2 linked regions of the Homo sapiens genome follow. The protein of the gene in region 1 purifies or fractionates together with the protein of each later gene. This does not show direct contact. Each region holds a gene or a part of one and is shown in the gene's direction. Other genes may lie near its edges. The genes, in order: SIRPG and LTF.

Region 1 (5,415 bases):
CTGGGCATTGTCCCATGGACCTGAAGTTGGCCTGTGTTCCACTCCGTATGACCAAAATATGTCTTACTTCCCTCTTGTGTAATACCAGGAGGAGTCTCAACTCCAGGAGACTTTTCAAAGGCCCAGGTTCCTCCCACATACCTTATGGTGGTTAGTCTTATCTGCTGGGTCAGTGCTAGGTCACGGATTTTTCCATGTCCCTGTCTGCTGGAAGAGTAAATATAGGAAATGGAGGGCAAAAAATATCTTCTATAATCAGAGATGTATGGAAGGCGTGTGATCATGTCCACAGCTAACTCAGTCATGCATGTACACGCAGTTCCAAATGGAATCCATAGTTGGGTGATCTTATGACTAAAGACAGCATAACAAAACCAGTATCATTATTACAGTTAATACAATTTCAAATTTTTAATCACTAAATTTCATAAAATTATTAAAACAATTCCCTTATATCATCTAAAATGGAGTATACATTCAAATTTTCCTCAAATTTCTTTTATGACTATCTTTCTGTGCACTAAATTTGGTTTTAATTCATATTTAAATGCTTTGCAGTATTTTTCTTTGAAACACTTGGGCCTCAAGAATTTTTGGGGGTGTTTTAAAAGTATAAATTCAATTTCCTCAGTAGTTTAGGGTTACTCATATTATTCATTTCATATTGGGTGAGTTCCGGTAACTCGTGCCTTTTGAAGAATTTTGTGTCCATTTTATCTAAGTTGTCATATTTTTGTGTGTAGAGTTGTTCATAATATCTCCTTATTATCTTTTTGGTGTCTGAAGGGTTATGGCGATATCCCCTGTTTCAACCTCATATCTAAAATATGCCATTTCTGTTTTCTTCTTCATCAGCCTTGCTATAGTTTTTTTCCATTTTATTGGTCTTTTCAAAGGACCACTTTGTTTCCGTGAGTTTTTAAATTGTTTTTGTGTTTCCAGTTTATTCATTTTTTGCACTCTTCTTTTTATTAATTCCTGTCTCCTGCTTGCTTTGAGTTTATTTTGCTCTACTTTTTCTAGTTTCTTGAAGTGGTGATTTAATTGACTTGAGGCTTTTGCTCTTTTCTATGTCATTCCTTTGCCTCCGTTTATGGCTGGGGCTGGTGTTGGGGGATGGGTCCCAGGTGCCTGGCTGCAGGGCTGTCCCTCAGTCCTGAGGCCCCTAGTCAGTCTCCCTTCTTCCTCTCCCACCTTGGAATTTCTCCTATTCCTGATCCTTGTGATGTTTCTAGGGTTCATAGTTTTACTTCTCAGGGAGGTAAAACTGCACCATCAAGACTGGATTGCATTTGCTTTTCAGTTATTCATCCACCCACTGGCTTGGACCAGGACCAGGGCTGGCATTTTTGGGTGCTTTCGGTTTGCCAGATGTAGCATCTTTGCTCAGGTACTAAGGCTGGAAATGCATTTTAAGTTGTCTAGGCTGGCAGGTAAAATGCAAGATGCCTTGTGGTTACATAAGTGCTGCACCAGTGGCGTGGGAGCCGGGTAAGAGACTGTGCACTAGGGTTAGGTGAGTGTTCTGTTTTGACTCACGGTCATTTTGCAGTTTGGCTTTCTCTCTTCAAGTAATACTGAGAGCCAGGGTTGTGCAGAACTTACTTTGTTTTCATTTTTTATTTGATTTGGGGAGGATATTTTATACAGATAAGTAGCTATGCTGCTGCAATTGTACCCAGCAACTCTTAAGTCAACCGAAGATCTTTGAGTGCTTTGACCCAAATGTCCACTCCCACATCTCAGGGTCCCACAACTTCCCCATCAGGGCCCTACCCCAGCATAGCAACCGTTGAAGCTGAGATTCATCCTCCTCTGTGATTCTGCTACTCTTTTAATGATGTCCAGGGCCCAACCCTCTATTCTTTCTGCCCTCTAGCCACAAGAGATAAGAAAGTGCAGTGCTGCCAAGAAGTCCTCTTGCTTTCACGCTGAACCTTAACTCATAATCAATCACTCGTAGCTTCTCAGCATATTTCCCCAAAAAAAATATGCCCAGTGATAGCCATGGAACAAGTTAGTCCTTATAACTACCATTTCCCAATTTGTTTCAAAAGCCTGATGCCAAGGAATTTCCTGCCTGTGGTTACGCCATCCCAGCTTACTGCCAGTGAAAGTTTTATCAATTGCATCCCAGCCATGGTGCCCAGCCCCACTCACTGCCAGCCCTGAGGTCCTCATTGCGAGCTGATGAGTATTCAGGCTTCAAATTTATATTTTAGAGTAAGCTTTACAGACAACTTACCAAGGTCAGTTTCTCTGTAAGGCAGACTAGAGATGGATACAGGAATGCAGGAAGCATCCTGAAGAGCTGTAGGGTCAGCATGCCTCAGGAAATGGGGAGGCAGGACTGTAGGAGGAGCGAGGTGCTGAGCTACAGTGCAGGTAGAACAAAGACCCAGCTGCTCCTGCGGAGGATCCCAAGGGCTGAGAGCGTCATGTAGTGTTTTTTAATTGAGGAGAGAAGCGTGGCCTTCCTATTTTCAATTCAGCCAATCTTTCTTGTGGGCTGTCCCCTAGAAGGAGGAGTGAACTTGGAATTGGGCAGTGCAGCTTTCCTCAAGGGAGAAGAAGTCCCAGAGAGCCACCCAGCTGAGAACTGCCGGCCTCCAACACCCCAGCAGCCACAGATGCTGAGTTCTCCATTTCTTCCTTAAGGACCCACCAGCACCATTTTATTTATTTAAAATATACTGTAATATCTTTAATGGCCCAAACTGCTCGCGTTAAAAATGTTGATTTTAAAAGCCTGAACTGCTCATGTTAAAAATGCAGCGTCCAAACATGTGCTTCCCCGTAACTGAGTGTGCCCAACTAACAGAAAGATTTCAGATGACACCTGCACTGGGGTGGAGGTGGCCTAGGTGACATCTGAGGCCCTCCCAAGCATGAGACCCATTTCCGTGACTCACCAGGATGTTTTCTAGCCGGAAGGTTTCATTATGTCCAGTGTTCCATGGCTCCTCCAAGTTCTGAGAACACGGAGTCCTCCCCTTACTTCTGGGGCTAAGCAGGGAACCTGCAACTCTCATTGTGAAGCCATCCTCAAGCCACCTGCCTACCCTTTTATAGTCATTAAAATGTCCCTAGGAATTTGGACTTGTTTTGTTCCAAAGGACATGGTCTCAGGGATCAACCTAAGGAACACTAGTGATGAGCTTCTTTAGGTTTGAATGCAAGTAACCTTGTGACCCTCCCTAAAATCCATGGGCCTCAGTTTCCCTAGCAGAATGGAATGACAATCCCTGCTCCCATAGGCTTGTGAGGGTCAAGTGAGGAACCCCGTTGCCACATGTATGAATACCTGAGTACACACCCCCTCCACCTCTTCCCTCCAGGAGAATAAGCTGGCAACCTGGGACAGGATGAGTGAGAATGGGGAGCCTCTTTCTGTGGCTTCTGCCTTGTGCTGGAGTGAAGATAGCCTGGGCAGGATGCAGGTTCAAAGGTGGGGCATAGATGGGCCCAGGCAGCCTCAGATGGGGTAAGTGGAGGCCCCTACAATGGCCTCCCAAGTGGTCTCTCTCATAGCCCCTCGTCTTCCCTGATTTCCAGGCCCGGCATCATCCCTTACTGCGCTGCTCCTCATAGCTGTCCTCCTGGGCCCCATCTACGTCCCCTGGAAGCAGAAGACCTGACTGTAAGTACAAGGAAGGGAGGACAGACCAAGGGCTGTCTCAGAAGGGCAAGGCCAACAGGAAGGCCCAGCCCACATGCCATGCAGCACCAGGGTCCGTGGAGTTAAGCTCCCTCCGCACCCTCGGAAGTCTTGGGGAACCCTTTAAAAGGCTCCCAACCCACAGAAATTATGTGGGTGGTGTACAATGTGGGATGCTTGAAATGTGTTCAAAGATGTCCACAGTGCCCTAGGAGTTTCATGGAGGCAGTGATGAGTGGGTGGTCCCTTGCAGGCTATCTGTAGATTATTTGAATGCTGGGACTCCATGGGGTCAGAGAAATCCACATTGTAAACTAATGTTGAGAAACCCAAATGGGAAGCCCTGAAGGCTGTTTGTGCTCTGACCCTCTGTGTGTCTGAGTGGAAGGAATATTGGAAAGGGCATCAGGACTTGGCAGGATGGCTGAGCAGGCAGAGTTCTATCAGGACTGCCTGTCCACCAGTGACAGGTATCCCAGGAGACCAGCCCCGAGAACATAACAGACTCTCAGGAAACATGTCTTGAAAGATGAGCAGATGACTAAGTGTGGATGTGTTTTCCTACAGCTCCTTCCTTCCTCCCCTGCCACGTGGGACCCTCATCTCTGCTGCCTCCTTCCTTTCCTGAGAGGCTCAGCTTGAGAGAATGAGCCAGTGAGAAGCTTCTCTAGACTTGGCTCCAAACATCTCCCCTCCCAAGACATCTGCCTGCCCACAGGCTCCTGTTGCTCCTTCACACAGACCTGGATGCCCCAGAGCAAGGTCTTCATTCATGGTCCTGAGCAGGTGCCATGGGATTGGGCTCTGGGCACTGACTTAACGGCACCTCCCTAGAAGGCGAGAAACATGCCAAATCTAAACACACCAGGACTCCCATCCATCGCCTTGAGACTGACCGTAAACCACAGACGCTCTCCAGGTTCTCAAGAGTTATCCTGCCTTCCAGATTCCTGCCTATCCCAACTCCCCAGCCTTGTTGAGGTTCTCTATTGCCTCTTGAATACAAATGCACTCCCAAAGTGGTTTTAAGAAAATAAAAAGATTATCCTTCCTCTTTGTCTAAGGGTCCTACTCCTCACACTCAGAAACAAAGAAGCTCTCCCTGCTCTCTCTGTGATGGGAACACTAGTTCTAGCATCCTGCAGGCTTCCCCGCCCTGCTGCTCATGGCGGAAATGCTGCCGCAGTCCAAAAGCCTCCTTGACTCCCGAATCCTCCCTGATGTCTCTTTACACCCCATATTCAATTCTGCCTTCAAAATACTTATGTCCACTCGTGAGATGGTAAGTGTTTAAAAATGGACTCTCTTAAAGGAAAAAAAAAGCTGATTTGTTGTACTTGACAATTTCTGTGGTATAATCACCCCCAACATGGCCAGTTTCAAGCTACCAGAAGTTTAACAACTGGATTGCAAAATTCCTGAAACTTAACGGTTGGCTTTCAGGGGCCAGTCCAAGCCTGCTGCAGGAGAGCACTGAGTTACATCCCTAACCTGCACACTTCTCACCTCCATCACCCCTCCCTGTCCCGGCCAGCATCATCTCTTCCGGGAACACTTCTGTAGCCTCTGTTGGCTTTCATTTTTCAGCTACAGGGATTTTTGGAAAAGTCAAATTGTATCACTCCTCTGCTTCTTCCCCAACACAGCTGCATGGCTCCCTTCATCCCTCCTTCAAGCCTCTGCTCAATGTCACTTTATTAAAGGCACCTTTGGCAAACCACCCTGTACATAATATCAATTCTCCTGTCTACCCTGGC
Region 2 (7,287 bases), on another chromosome or scaffold:
AGGAGACAGCAGAGGCTGAACATTCTACCCCATAGCACATCCAAAGGGCAGAGGGCTTTTACAACTGTGTGTTTATTTTGTTTTTTTGTTTGTTTGTTTTTTGTTTTAGTTTTTGGTAACAGCTTTACTGAGGTACATTTTCCATATCATAAAAAATCACCTATTTGCGTACAATTCAATGAGTTTCAGTAACCTTACCGAGTGTGCAACTATCACCATAAATCTGTTTTAGAACACTTTTATCCCCCCCAGTAAAGGTCCCTCATGCCTGTTTATAGTTAATCCTCATTTCTACCCCAGCATCAGACAACCACTAATCTATTTTCTTGTCTCCATAAATTTGCCTTTTCTGGACATTTCATTCAAATGGAATCATACAGCATGTGGTCTCTTGTGTCTGGCTTCCTTCACTGAGCATAACTGAGGCTCGTTCATGTTGTGGGGCATGCCAGTAGTTCTTTTCACTGCTGAGTAATATTCCATTGAATGGATGTACATTCACCAGTTATTGGACATTTAGGTTGTTTCCAGTTTTCTACTATTCTAAATAACACTGCTATGAATATTCATGCACAAGCATTTATGTATGATAGGTTCTTATAATATTTCTTCTGGCTATATGCCTAGAAGTGCAATTGTTGGGTCCTATTGGAACTCTGTGCTTCACATTTTGAGAAGCTGCCAACCTGTTTTACAAAGTGGCTGGTCATTTTACATTCTCAGCAATGTATGAGGGTTTCCACTTCTCCACATCCTCATCGATATGTGTCATTGTCTGTTTTAGCTATTATAACCTGTTCAGTGGCTGTGAAATGATATTTCGTTGCATTTTCAATTTGCATTTTTGACTAATGATATTGAGCACTTTTCATGTGCTTATTGTCCATTCATATATCTTCTTTGGTAAAATGTCTGTTCTTATCATTTACCCGTCATGTACTAAATCCTTTTTGATGTTATACTATCTAGCATTATGTTCTTAATTTCATTTTTAGATTGTTCTGTGCTGTATGCAAAAATATGATCAATTTTTGTATATTGATCTTGTATCCTGTGGCCTGGCTGTACTTGTTTATTAATTCTAATAGTACTTTGTAGATTCTTCAGTATTTTCTACATAGAAGATCATGTTATCTGAAAGTAAAGTCAGTTTTACTTCTTTCTTTCCAATATGGGTGTCTCATTTCTTTTCTTGCCTTATTGCTGTGACTAGAATCTCTAGTACTGTTGAATAGAAGAGTTGAGTGTGGACACTCTCTCATCATTCCTGATCTTAGGTGGAAAGCAGTCAGTCTTTCACCATTTTAGTATGATGTTCATTGCAGGTTTTTTGTGGATGCCTTTTATCAGGCAACCAGGTGAGTAAATTCAATGCATCTTCCTCCCTAATTACATGGATTTGAGCAACAAAAGCAGGCTCAAAAGAAGAACCAGTATTTGAGCAAAAAAAGCAGGCTCAACAGGAGCACCAGTCTTTCTGTGCAGAGTGAATGGTGGTAGCTCAGGCACACCAACCAACTGATTTGTCCCCATTGACACTGACTTACCATTTACCTCAGCTACCAACCGACTCAGGTATATTTTCCCCTGTTCTCTTGGCATTCCCTGGGAAGAGATTTATGCACAAAACAATCTAGAGAGACGTGGATTCTCAGCTGGGCTCTGCACTGCTGAGTGGCGAGTCACTCAGCCTCCTTAGGAGCCAATTTCCACATCAGTAAAACAGGAGCAATGACTCCTTTCCTGCCTACCTTCCAGGTTCAAAGTGGGCAAAGCTGGTAGAAGAATTCCATAACTGATCTGGGGGATCACCATCATTTTTTAAGTGGTAGGAAACATGTCAAAGTCATAGGAATGAAAATAATCTAGAGGGACTTTCTCCTTTAATTTATTGAGAACCACAGACCTCTAGCCAATGCAGAGATCCTATTAGTCCAGCAAGATGCCTCCACTTGTGGAGAATGGCTGGACATAGCCATGAAATGGAGAGGGAAGGAGGGCAGCCGAGAGAGAGGGAGGAGTCTGGAAAACTCCATCAGAGGGTGCGGTGGTCACGCCCTCAGTCAGTGGTTGAATCCTTACTCCTTGGCCCCTCTCTCCCAGGACTGTGTCTGGCTGGCCGTAGGAGGAGTGTTCAGTGGTGCGCCGTATCCCAACCCGAGGCCACAAAATGCTTCCAATGGCAAAGGAATATGAGAAAAGTGCGTGGCCCTCCTGTCAGCTGCATAAAGAGAGACTCCCCCATCCAGTGTATCCAGGCCATTGCGGTGAGTCAATGCCGGGTGTTGGTTGGGACCAAGCTGAATGGAAGGGAGAGAGAAATGGAAAAAGATAGAACACGAGCTCTCCTTACTTCCTCTGCTTCACCTGTTGGGCAACGAAGTGGGGAGCCGTCCTCTCTCACAGGGAACTGTGCTATTTTCAGAGCAGAAAGGAAGGAGCTTAAGTCAAGAGACCATGTGTGAGGAACCTGGAGCCTCCACATAAACTATAATAACAACTGTTATTCATTAATAACAACTGTTCCAAAATGAAATGTAATCAGTTGTATTTGATGAATACATAGGATCAGCAAAAAGCAAAGTTACTCAGAGAGGGAAATCCTCCAAAAGAGTCATGACCTCTAAACCCTGTGAGAAAGAAGCTTGTCCTGGTCACCGTTGCCACATCACATGGCTGGGGCAGGGCCTGCCAGGGTGCTGGGTGTTAGAAAGACTTTTGTCCAAGACACTTTCAGAGAGAGAGAAAAGGGTATCATGACTTGTATATGATTTCTGATTCCTTTTATTTTTTGAGATGTAAGATCTACTGAAATGATTTTTACTCATTCATTCAACAAATATATTCTGTGTACCTGCCATGTGCCATAATCATGTGTACTCAACTCCAGCAGAGTGAATAATTTGCATAAAAGTTCCCGAGGCAACTTCATAGGATTATCTTATAAATACAATGGAGTTATTAGAATAGCACTTAGGGAAAAATCTAGTTTAATCAATGTTTTAGGCTATTATTTTACAACTATTACCTGCATACAAACAGTACCAGTGGCTGGGCGCGGTGGCTCACGCCCGTAATTTCAGCACTTTGGAGGCCGAGGTGGGAGGATCACCTGAGGTCAGTAGTTCAAAACCAGGATGGCCAACATGGTGAAACCCTGCCTCTACTAAAAATACAAAAATTAGCTGGGTGTGGTGGCACATGCCTGTATTCCCAGCTACTTACAAGGCTGAGGCAGGAGAATCACTTGAACCCGGGAGGGGGAGGTTGCAGTGAGCCAAGATCATGCTATTGCACTCCAGCCTGGGCGACAAGAGCGAGACTCCATCTCAAAAAACAAAAAACAAAAACAAAAAACCAGCACCAGCATCTCTTGCTTGTTTAAAATGCAGATTCCTAGGCTCTATTCTAACCTACTCAATCTGAATATATGTGAAAGAAGCCACAAAATCTGCCTTTTAAAATAAGATCCTGTCCAAGGCCATACCACGCTGAACGCGTCTGATCTCGTCTGATCTCGGAAAATAAGATCCCTGTTTGAAATCAGTACTACATACCATTCATTCAAATAAAGTTGAGATAGATTAAATGGTTAAAAATAAAACTTGTATTATTGAAAAACTAGGGGGCAGGTTAACTAGCAGAACTGTAGAGGAAATAGAAATCTCTTAAATGATGATCTAAATCACGAAACAAACAGATATTCTAAAATACAGAAAATGTAATTCATAGCCCATAGAAAATATTTAAATAAAAAAATTAGAAAGGACTGGAATGAATGAATATGCGCCAGCTCTGACACATGATTACTATTTACACTCTATAAAAGAATAACTCAAGGCCGGGCGTGGTGGCTCACATCTGTAATCCCAGCACTTTGGGAGGTCAAGGCAGGTGGATCACGAGGTCAGGAGATCAAGACCATCCTGGCTAAGATGGTGAAACCCCATCTCTACTAAACATACAAAAAAAAAAAAATTAGCCAGGCATGGTGGCACACGCCTGTAGTCCCAGCTACTCAGGAGGCTGAGGCAAGAGAATCGCTTTAACCCGGGAGGTGGAGGTTGCAGTGAGCTGAGATGGTACCACTGCACTCCAGCCTGGGTGACTCCGCTCGAAAAAATAAATAAATAAAAGAATAACCCAAATTGGAAAAAATGTAGAATCATAGAAGAAAAATGATATGAACAGAGTTACCAGTAAGAGGGAATTCATAATTAATAAAAAATACTTGTGAGATGTTCCCCTTACTAATCAGACCTGAGCGATTTGTTAGTACTCACATTTTCTATAGTAATAACAGCTAATAGAATGATAGCCTGCCCTGCTGGTGATTCAAGAGTGAAGCTGGTCCTCACGGTCAGCGCCATTCTGAATTGGTATTATAAGTCTTCTGGAAGCAGAATGGCAACGGCAGCCCGGGTCACAGGGGGAAACGTGCTCCTCATCTGGGGGATTCCACCCTCAGCTGCCTACCCAAGGACACAAGTGGTCACAAGGAAAAACACTGAGGACAAAGATATTCATGAAAATACAGTCTTCACAGGAAACAGTTAGAAATAAACTTAAATGCTAAACATTGGGGGAAATTATTCAATACACGATAGAACACCCACATTATGAGAAAACATTATGCTGTCTACAAAATCAGTAAAGGCTCTGCAGAAGTTAGAAAATGTATCCAGTTTTAGAGGAATAAGCAGTCCACAAAATATGATGTATCCCAGGGGTCCCCACCACCTGGCCACGGACTGGTACCGGTTGATGGCCTGTTAGGAACTAGACCTCAGACCAGGAGGTGAGCAGAGGGCCAGTGAGCATGACTGCCTGAGCTCCACCTCCTGTCAGATCAGCGGCGGCATTAGATTCTCATAGGAGTGTGAACCCTAGTGTGAACTGTGCATGCGAGGGATCTAGGTTGCACTCCCTATGAGAATCCAATGCCTGATGATCAGAGGTGGAACGGTTTCATCCCAAAACCATTCCCCATCTGTCTGTGGAAAAATTACATTCCCTGAAACTGGTCCTTGGTGGCAAAAAAGTTGGGGACCACTAAACTATCCCACATTGCAAACCAAAGAAATATGTAATCATGTGGGAAGCAATGTGCTGAAGCGGAGGAACATGGTTTCTTATGAAAATTTTAGGATAGCTTAATAACTATATTTTCTATCCAATAAAACAGAACTTAAAAGAAATGAATATAGAGCAAAAATAGAAAGTATCTAGAACAAACGACTTCAAATATAGATGACTGTGAGGGGTGTGATCGGGAGAGTGACACAGGCAGGCAGAGGAGAAAGAGGGCAGGCGCCAGTCTCAGGACTTAGAGGGCTGGTGCTCACTGTCCCAAAACAGGGGTCCTTGGCTCTCACCATCTCTCATAGGAAGTGAGGGGACAGGATGGAAAGCGGACCCCTTTGACGACCCTTCCAGCCATGGAGACTTTTTGAGGTCCTGAAGTCCCACTTGCTGGGTTTGGGTGAGTTTTCTGCTGAAGCCAGTCTGGCCTCTTTACTTTCAGGAAAACAGGGCCGATGCTGTGACCCTTGATGGTGGTTTCATATACGAGGCAGGCCTGGCCCCCTACAAACTGCGACCTGTAGCGGCGGAAGTCTACGGGACCGAAAGACGTGAGTTCTGCCTGGGGACCCAGAGGCCACGGTGGCCTCAGCCTGTGCCCTGAGCTGTGTGGATTAAGACTGGGGGAACATGTGGAGGTGGAGTCTGGGTCACATCACACATGTAGGGAATGGAGTCGCTGGGCTCTGGGCCAGATGAAGGCCGTTCCTCCTGACGCTGACCCACGAGAGGAGGACACACGTGAGCTGTGAGGAAACTGCAGCACAGCATTCCCCCTTCCCACCGGAGACTTTTCAGGATGGGTTGTTTTTGTCCCTCTTGTCCAGGCTAAGAACTTTCAATTCTGTCTGCCCCTTTGCAGAGCCACGAACTCACTATTATGCCGTGGCTGTGGTGAAGAAGGGCGGCAGCTTTCAGCTGAACGAACTGCAAGGTCTGAAGTCCTGCCACACAGGCCTTCGCAGGACCGCTGGATGGAATGTCCCTATAGGGACACTTCGTCCATTCTTGAATTGGACGGGTCCACCTGAGCCCATTGAGGCAGGTAAGATGGCTGGGGGATAGTGAGTGGCCTCAGGCAGGGGGCTCTATTCCAGTTGTAAGCACAGGCCACACAGATCATGCAGGTGAAAGTGTGGGATGAATCAAGGTGGGGGTGAGGCTGGCCAGCTTGTAACATCCTGCTGGCAGGATCCGTTACCCTAGCAGCCCTTGGGAGGCACAGCTGAGTCTGCTCTCGGCAGAGGTGCATGTCTCGAGCTCCCAGCCCCATGACAGAGTCTCTCCTGCAGGGGTGGAGGAAGGGGCCTTGCCCACGGAGACCTCAGGATGGGAGGTGTAACCTGCTGTGACCAGGGCTGGCTCACACTCTGTGGTCCACTTCTCTGTGTTTAACAGCTGTGGCCAGGTTCTTCTCAGCCAGCTGTGTTCCCGGTGCAGATAAAGGACAGTTCCCCAACCTGTGTCGCCTGTGTGCGGGGACAGGGGAAAACAAATGTGCCTTCTCCTCCCAGGAACCGTACTTCAGCTACTCTGGTGCCTTCAAGTGAGTGACCCTGTCCCCTTCTCGTCAGTGGCCAAGTGTCCCTTGGCCTCAGGCCGGGAGGCCTTTTCTCTGGCCCCACATAGAGCCCAGCCTGCTCTTGGGGACGAGAGGAGGTCTGTTCTCCTACTGCTGTGTGTCCAAAGAGAGTGCAGGCCTGCCCAGTGTGTGTTCCCCTCCAGCCTTCCGGGCCCAACTGTGCCCCCAACTTCTCACCAGCCCCACGGGCAGTCACTGTGGCTGTGGGCCCTCCTGTTACCTCAGAGAGCCCTGAATCCAACTTGGCTGCCCTGTTGTCCTGGGTTCCTCATACTAATTTCTGCCGCCTGCCTAACCACAGCAGGACTGAAGGCATCTTGTCATGAGATGTCCAGTCCTGGCTCCTGGTTGGGCAGGACCGCTGCAGTGTCCAGGCTGATGTCCTTCTGCCCACCTGGGCCTCTCCCCGTGGCTGAAGGACAGTGAGCAATGCCTGATTCGCCCCCATCCTCTCTGCCCCCACGCGGAGGCTGAGCTCCCCCTTTTCCCATTCTGTCTGCTGGCACTAGCGTATTTTTGCAGAGGGAGGCCTCCACACTTCCCCACTGGCCAGGGCACACCTGCACACTCAGTCCTGAGGAAAACAGCCACATGAACAGTGATGCTAAGGCTTTACCCTCTTG

Evidence for each region.
Region 2: the proteins of SIRPG (region 1) and LTF purify together in Homo sapiens (affinity purification with mass spectrometry; 2 studies listed by BioGRID and IntAct, with this or other methods). This does not show direct contact.

The regions. Positions count from the first base shown.
Region 1 is NC_000020.11:1,628,447-1,633,861, reverse strand, and holds the end of SIRPG (signal-regulatory protein gamma isoform 1 precursor), read left to right. Parts: intron 1-141; exon of another isoform or gene 142-354; intron 355-3,555; coding exon 3,556-3,638; 3' UTR 3,639-3,640; intron 3,641-4,225; 3' UTR 4,226-4,710; downstream 4,711-5,415. UniProt on the Homo sapiens protein: Probable immunoglobulin-like cell surface receptor. On binding with CD47, mediates cell-cell adhesion. Engagement on T-cells by CD47 on antigen-presenting cells results in enhanced antigen-specific T-cell proliferation and costimulates T-cell activation.
Region 2 is NC_000003.12:46,454,636-46,461,922, reverse strand, and holds part of LTF (lactotransferrin isoform 1 preproprotein), read left to right. Parts: intron 1-2,103; coding exon 2,104-2,267; intron 2,268-5,524; coding exon 5,525-5,633; intron 5,634-5,944; coding exon 5,945-6,127; intron 6,128-6,480; coding exon 6,481-6,628; intron 6,629-7,287. UniProt on the Homo sapiens protein: Transferrins are iron binding transport proteins which can bind two Fe(3+) ions in association with the binding of an anion, usually bicarbonate. Lactoferricin binds to the bacterial surface and is crucial for the bactericidal functions.